2 linked regions of the Homo sapiens genome follow. The protein of the gene in region 1 purifies or fractionates together with the protein of each later gene. This does not show direct contact. Each region holds a gene or a part of one and is shown in the gene's direction. Other genes may lie near its edges.

Region 1 (4,598 bases):
GCACTTTGGGAGGCCGCGGCGGGTGGATCACCTGAGGTCGGGAGTTCGAGACCAGCCTGACCAACATGGAGAAACCCCGTCTCTACTAAAAACACAAATTTAGCTGGGCGTGGTGGCGCATGCCTGTAATCCCAGCTACTAGGGAGGCTGAGGCAGGAGAATCGCTTGAACCTGGGAGGCGGAGGTTGCGGTGAGCCGAGATCGAGCCATTGCACTCCAGCCTGGGCAACAAGAGTGAAACTCCGTCTCAAAAAAGAAAAGAAAAGAAATGATCCCTCACCGAACCGAGCCTCAGTTCAGTGCGAAGGCTCTGATGATACTCTTTTTTTTTTTGAGACGGAGTCTCGTTCTGTTGCCCAGGCTGGAGTGCGGTGGCGCCATCTCGGCTCACCGCAACCCTTTCCTCCCCGGTTCAAGCGAATCTCCTGCTTCAACCTCCTGAGTAGCTGGGATTACAGGCGCGCGCCACCTCTCTTGGCTAATTTTTGTGTTTTTAGTAGAGACGGGGTTTCACCATGTTGGTCAGGCTGGTCTCGAACTCCTGACCTCGTGATCCACCCGCCTCGGCCTAAGAAAGTGCTGGGATTACAGGCGTGAGCCACCGGCCGCTGATGGTATTCTTTCCTGAGGGCAGATTTTCACGCCAGAAGCCCCGACAATTATACCTGAGCTGGTTCCACCTAAGCTCAATCCTCCTTCCCTGCCCCAAGGGGGTGAAAAATCTGGGCCCAGGAGGCCTTCCTTGTGCTCTGGGGGGAGGCATTTAAGGGTCCAAGGAAGACGTGACCGAAATGTAAAGCACTGGACGGCTTACCCAATAAGGGACCCAGCGTTTCTTATTACCCAACATCCCCCTGAGTCTGGCTTTTAGAAAAATATGCAAAGCGTCCGGGCGCAGTGGCTCACGCCTATGATCCCAGCACTTTGGAAGGCCGAGGCGGGCGCGGTCAGGAGTTTGAGACCAGCCTGGCCAATATGGTGAAACCCCGTCTCTACTAAAAATACAAAAATTAGCCGGGCATGGTGGCCCCCGCCTGTAGTCCCTCGGGAGGCTGAGGCAGGAGAATCGCTTGAACCTGGGAGGCGGAGGTGGCAGTGAGCTGAGATCGCACCATTGCACTCCAGCCAGCGCGACAGAACGAGACTCCGTCTCAAACAAAACAAAACAAAAAACAAACTACAAAATTAGCCGGGCATGGTGGCGTCTGCCTGTAGTCCCAGCTGCTTGGGAGGCTGAGGCAGGAGAATTGCTTGAACCCAGGAGGTGGAGGTTGCAGTGAGCCGAGATCGCACCATTAAACTCCAGCCTGGGCGACAAGAGGGAAATTCCGTCTCAGGGGAAAAAAAGAGAAAGAAAGAAAAAGAGGAAGAAAGAGAAAGAAAAATATGCAAAGCAACAAAAAAGAGAGCTAGAAAGATGGAAACAACTCAGAAGACCCTTGCTTAACCCGCGTGCGTCACGGGCTACAGGGGTCGGCCCCTCGAGCTAACCCCCACCGGCGCCTGCGCACTGGCCTGGCCCGCGGCAGGAAGCCCCGGCGTGAGACACTTTCGGATTCCGTGACAACGGCGGGATTAAACGTTTTTCTTCTCCTTTGCTACTGAACCTATGCTGTGACTTAGAACATAAGAAACTCCAAGAGGGTGTAGGGATTGTCTTAGCTGTCTCCCTCCTCCGCCGGCACCGCTGAAGGCAGCCCCTATGGAGGGCGCTAAACCTCGGGGCCCTGGGTTTCTATGACGACAAACAGGCGTTCCAGCAAAGGAGGAAGTGAGCGGATGCTGGGCGGGTACGCAATGTGTGGGTAGGATCGCGGGTGTCCCTTTCCCGTCATTTTAAACCAAGAAGCAGTGCGAGGCCTGCCCAACTCGCGAGTTTGTGGAACTGGCGCGCGAGAGCGCTGCCTGTGGGGAAGGTATGGTCCCCAGCCGAGCCGCCTGCAGCGAGTGTCCCCCACCAGGGGTGCCGGCGGTCTGCGGGGTCCGCCGAGCGGGTCCTTCCTGCCCTGCTCCTTGACCCCGACCTGACGGTCCACTAAGGCTTCTTAGTCGCTACACATAACCCCAGAACATAGAGGTCGCCCCGAAGAAGGAGAACCATGCTAGATGAATTCTAAACTGCGATCTGAACCTAAGTACTCAATAGTTGTCATCTTTTTTTTTTTTTTTAAATCTTTTTTCCTCTGCCTGCAGGACTATGTGGCAGCCTGCAAGTCCCAGTGCGGCGCTGATTTGTGTCTAAATTAGCTTTCCGGAGGACTATTTCAAATTACTAAAGAGATAGGAGGCATTGTTTATTATGTCTCTCCCGAAAACGCCCTCCACCCCGCTAAACTCTACATCAACATCTGAGAGCAAAAAGTTAAAAGTGTCTGTAGCCAAGGAAGGGACAAGAGGTAAACTTCGTTGATTCTGAAGTCATAAACAGTCATGGCCGTAAGACAGAAATCACCTTCCATTCACCGGTTTTTTAAATCTGATATTCAGAATACCTTGATTGGCTACATTTTTCTAACACACTTGCTTAAATAAAGCAAGAAGTCATTCCTTTTACAGTATTTTGAGTCAGAGTACTGTTTCACTACTCCATCTAAATACAGTTTATACTTTTTTTCAAATGTTGATTTATATATGATTTTAAATTCAACCTATTTTAAATATCAATAGTTACGTATTTTTTGGTTCCTGGTCTTTGGCTTTAAGGAACTTTGGAAAAAGTAATAGTGAGGCAGGGCGCGGTGGCTCACGCCTGTAATCCCAGCACTTTGGGAGGCCGAGGTGGGCGGATCACTTGAGGTCAGGAGTTCGAGACCAGCCTGGCCAAATATGATGAAATCCCGTCTCTACTAGAAATACAAAAATTAGCCGGGCATGGTGGCTCGCGCCTGTAGTCCCAGCTTACTCTGGAGGCTGAGGCAAGAGAATCGCTTGAACCCAGGAGGTGAGGTTGCAGTGAGCCAGGATCGAGCCATTGCATTCCAGTCTGGGAGACAAGAGCAAGACCCCATCTCAAAATAAATAAATAAATAGGCCGGGCACAGTGGCTCACACCTGTAATCCCATTTGGGAGGCTGAGGCTGGCGGATCACGAGGTCAAGAGATTGAGACCATTCTGGCCAACATGGAGAAACTCTGTCTACTAAAAATACAAAAATTAGGGGGGGCGTGGTGGCTCGTGCCTGTAGTCCCAGCTACTCAGGAGGCTGAGGCAGGAGAATCGCTTGAACCCGGGAGGTGGAGGTTGCAGTGAGCCGAGATTGCGCCACTGCACTCCAGCCTGGCGACAGAACGAGACTCCGTCTCAAATCACGAGGTCAGGAGTTTGAGACCAGCCTGACCAACGTGGTGAAACCCGGTCTCTACTAAAAATACAAAATTTAGCCTGGTGTGGTGGCACTCGCCTGTAATCCCAGCTACTCGGCAGGCTGAGGCAGGAGAATCACTTGAACCCGGGAGGCAGAGGTTGCAGTGAGCCAAGATCTTGCCACTGCACTCTAGCCTGGGCAACAGAGGTAGACTTGGTCTCAAATAAGTAAATAAAGAAACAAAAAGTAATAGCAGAGATAAGAGAAACTCAATTTAGTACAATGTGCCAATTTGTATTAGCTTTTAGTAATTTTTCTAAATGAGAGCAATTCCTTAAGATTTTCGTTCATATGCGGATCTGTACTAGAGTCAGCTAGTGTTATCCTTACCCGGTTCTGTTAAAGCTTTTCCCATCTCACCTGCACCTTGTACTAAAACCCCAAGCCCCACCCAACTTTTTTTTTTTTCTTCTGTTTCTTTTGATCTCAAGCTCTCAGGAGATTTGGTAATGTAAACCCTAACAACTTTTGATAGTAATCAAAGCATGATACCTCCTTATAGAAATAAACATAAACCATACCATGTTACAGGCATAGATTAAGAAGAATAACAACTCAACCCTACCTGACTGACTTCATAGGAGGGCTTTTCCTACATTATCCCAACTACCTGCCTTTATTACTCCCCTGCCCTAGTCAAGCAGGGTAGAACACTCTTTTTACAGTTCCCATTCCACAGATTTGTCAGCTCAGATTGTTCCACTCTCATTTGCAACAATCCCAGTTCCATCTTTACTTTTAAGCCCAACCCAGAGCCTTTCCACTCTATAAATGCCTCGATTTAATGCAATTATTCTCACCTTTGAATTCATGTAAGAAAAAAATTACTAAATAATTTGACAGCTTGGGGGGAGAGATTTGTGATTTTCATATGAAAGGGAAAATAGACATTCATTCCTGTCTTCTTAAGGCTCTCCCAGTTACCTGAGCAAGTGAAATGAGTTTAGTTTTCAACTTTGAATTGAGAATCATGCAGGTTCATCTTGGTACCTGAGTTTTTGAAACTGTGTCTGATGTAATGTGAGTAGGGTAGGCAAGATGAATGTTATTTTCCTTGACTAGATGATGTTCACTGTTTTCAATATTATTTGTTACTATCTTTGTCAAATAGAAGCAATGTTTCTCTCTGTTAGAAACAGATGGGATTGATGAGGCAGTCTGAGAAGCTCCATCTAACTTAAAAAAATATATAGTAAGAGTTTTTCTTTTCCACTACTTACTTAGGACTTCCTG
Region 2 (3,137 bases), on another chromosome or scaffold:
TTGTTTTGGGGAGTAGCAGAGGTGGCTGTGGGTGTAGTGTGTGCAAGGCGAGAAAGAGAGAGGCCTGAGCTAAGGGGGTTCAGGATGGGAGAAAGGAGAGAAAGCATAAAGACAGGGCAAGGCCAGGTGCTGGATGAGCCAGAAAGGCTCATGGAGCGTGGGCTGGTTAGGAGGTGAGAGACTCTGGAAGGTTTTAGTGGACGGGAGAGTCGTGATAAAAAGCCATGGTTTACAGCAACTGTTTCCTTAGTAGTGAGCAGGATGTTGTGGCCTAGGAGAGAGGGAGGAAGGAGGGAGTTAGGAGGCTAGGGGGAGGCTAGGGGTGTATTTGGAGTGGGGGAGGTAGAGAAGGCAATTACAGAACATCAGAACTGTAGCAAACTTAGAGGTCCTCTTGTCTAAGCCCTCATCTTAATAAGAGGAAACTGAAGCCTAGAGAGGAGTAGGGGTCAGAGTTGGCCTCCAAGCCAGGACAATCTCAAGTTTCAAAGCCCTGGGGCTTCCCACCTCCTGTGCCCTGGAAGGCAGGCAAGAGCAGGACAAGGACAAAAGCTACAGGATGGGGAAGGGACGGACCTTGCGCTGCGCAGCCCAGGGAGCCTGCAGCAGGGGGGGAGCCCCTCCCTGCTCCTACACCCTTCTCTTCCTCCCCTACCTCGGGCCAGGTTCCTGTCCTGCCAGCGCAGCCCCGCAGCGGCCATCCTGGAGTTGTTTGAGGAGCAGAACGGCAGCCTGCAGGAGCTGCACTACCTCATGACCGTCATGGAGCGGCTAGACTGCGCCTCCGCCATCCAGAACTACCTGAGTGGGACACACGGCGGCAGCCCAGGCCCCGAGCGCGGGGGCGCCCGGGATAACCAGGGCCTGGAGCTGGACGAGAAGCTCTGAGCGCCCAGCGGGCAGGGCCGGAGGAGGTGTAGGGGCGAGAGGGGTTGTTCTCCTACGCCTAAGAGGAACACAGCAGCTGTTCCTGGCTGTGCCCACCACCCTTCCCAGAACCCTCGGACGGTGCCAGGGCCGCCCGCGTCCTCGCCAGCCTCCCAGCAGCAGGCGCGCCCTTCCGGCCGCGAGCTGTCCCGCGTGCGGGTCCCCTCCTGGCCGGCAGAGGGCGCAGGAGCCCAGGAGATGGCCTCAGCGTGGCCAGCCTGCCAAACTGACCAGGGGACGGCCACGGTCCCCGCGTGCACTTTAGGGCCGGTCAGGCCCTAAAGTATTCACTGAGCACTTAGGAAGACCGGGCATTGGGCTGGTGTCATGAAGAATACTGGAATATAGGAGGTAGGGTCTGGAGCCCTGACAAGCACACAGTTCTTTTGCAGGAGTCAAGATGTGCTCATAGGAGCCAAGGGCAAACTCGAAAACAGCCCTGCCCTGTGGTTAGGGGAGGTGGGTGTGGCTTTAGGAGTTGAGAGGGGAAGAGCTGAGTGCGGGCTGGAGCAGCGAGAATGCTTCACGGAGGATGTTGGGGAGAGAGGATTTGATTTGCCGAGTGGTTTGGAGATCTTTAGGGGCGGGTAGGGGAAGAGGGTGGCTGGACTTAAGGTAGGAGCCGAAAGTGGGCATGGGAGCCCATCCCCGTGGGTGTGAGGCCGGGGTAGGACCAGGCTTCCCGGCTAGGCACGCCTGGCTGGCTGCCTCTGCCTCTACTAACTTCCTTTGTCTCTTTATCCTCCTGCTTAGGCCGTGTCTTCCTCTCTCTCTGCCATTTTCTCTATCAGAAAACATTAAAGCTGAGTAGAAACTTCAAGATGATCATTCTGGCCCAGCCCTTTTATCTCTTTATCTCCAATGGTGTGCGTTTTAAGTTTCTCTGACTTGGTTTTTCTGTCCCTGTCTCCCACAGTTGTTCCCGCTCTGCACCTGTGTTTCAGTTACTCTCTCTCTCTGTCTTAGATCTTTTTGTTTCTGCCTAGTCTCTGTGCCCTGTCTTTGTGTGTTTCTTTCTCTGCCTGAAACCCTCCCTCTTTTCCCTTCAGGCATATGTCTCTAAACCAATGTTATGTATCAAAGACTGTTGAAAGAGACAGGGCTACTCTAGGAATGGATGGGTGGGGATATTTTCCCCATGGATCAAGATCCAGTTTAGGGTTGGGAAATAAAGGATAGGGATAAAAGAGGCACCCCATTCAGTCAGCAGATACTTATTCAGCACCTACTATGTGTTTGATACTGTATACAAAAGACATGAATGGGCTGGGTCCTGAACAGAGAATAAAGGGTTTGACTCCATTCTGGAAATTCTTTTGTTTGCAAACAGGTGTTGTTAATTTGTTCAAAGGCAGGCAAACAATCTCTCTGGCAACACAATTTTCTTCTGTATTTAATTAAAAAATATTAAAGCTTTTTTTCTATGATGAATGATAAAATATGAAAATTGCCTTCCTTTGTTACTAACTATATTTTGCTCAGATTGGCAAATTTGGATGTGAGTATGAATGATTTTATTTGGTAAAATTGTACCTATGGGGATGGGTTGGAGGGAAGCATTTTGTAGATTGTGCTTCCAGTATGAAAATTACCTGGGTCCCGCATGGTAAGTCAGGGAGGTTCCCTTCCTTTTCTGTTAGATGCAAGCCTTCAGAAGCAGGCCTTTCCATCCCTTCCCTGTTCCCCTATCCCCACCAGTCCTCTCCTACCCTTCTCATCTGTCCTCCTTACCCCATCGGGTGCTGCCAGTCACGCCAGATTAGTGCCCCGGACTTTTCCCCCTTCACTTAGCTCAGGATTGAACTGTGCAGTAGCCCGGCACTGTTTAGCCAAAGACATCATTGTGTTCCTTCCTACCCTGGAAAAAATCATTTTAAGAGTTTCACATCTACTGGAGTTGCAAATAGAAGCCACACAGATTCCAGTGATGGGAATAGAATGCTTTCTGGCCCCAACTCCAATTTCTCAAAATGCGTTTCCAGTGCTGGCAAAGGGAGGCTTGGAAATCCTGGGGTAGATGCAGGCCAAGTGATTCCTATAAGGCAGACACTTCCTTTCTCACATCAAACCCATTTGGCATGTTATGTATTGGCACCTAATGCTGAGAGATGGTGTGCCCCAGTGAGCATCAGGAGACTTAACATTTAGCCCTGACTCATACTAACTAGAACAGCTCTTCTTTGTGCTTTAAACTCTTCCTTGGAATGAAG

What was found.
Region 2: the proteins of AXDND1 (region 1) and UNC5CL purify together in Homo sapiens (affinity purification with mass spectrometry; one large-scale study listed by BioGRID and IntAct). This does not show direct contact.

Annotation. Positions count from the first base shown.
Region 1 is NC_000001.11:179,364,211-179,368,808, forward strand, and holds the start of AXDND1 (axonemal dynein light chain domain-containing protein 1), read left to right. Parts: upstream 1-1,771; 5' UTR 1,772-1,790; exon of another isoform or gene 1,791-2,135; intron 2,136-2,193; 5' UTR 2,194-2,299; coding exon 2,300-2,396; intron 2,397-4,589; coding exon 4,590-4,598. UniProt on the Homo sapiens protein: May be essential for spermiogenesis and male fertility probably by regulating the manchette dynamics, spermatid head shaping and sperm flagellum assembly.
Region 2 is NC_000006.12:41,026,124-41,029,260, reverse strand, and holds the end of UNC5CL (UNC5C-like protein), read left to right. Parts: intron 1-665; coding exon 666-888; 3' UTR 889-2,366; downstream 2,367-3,137.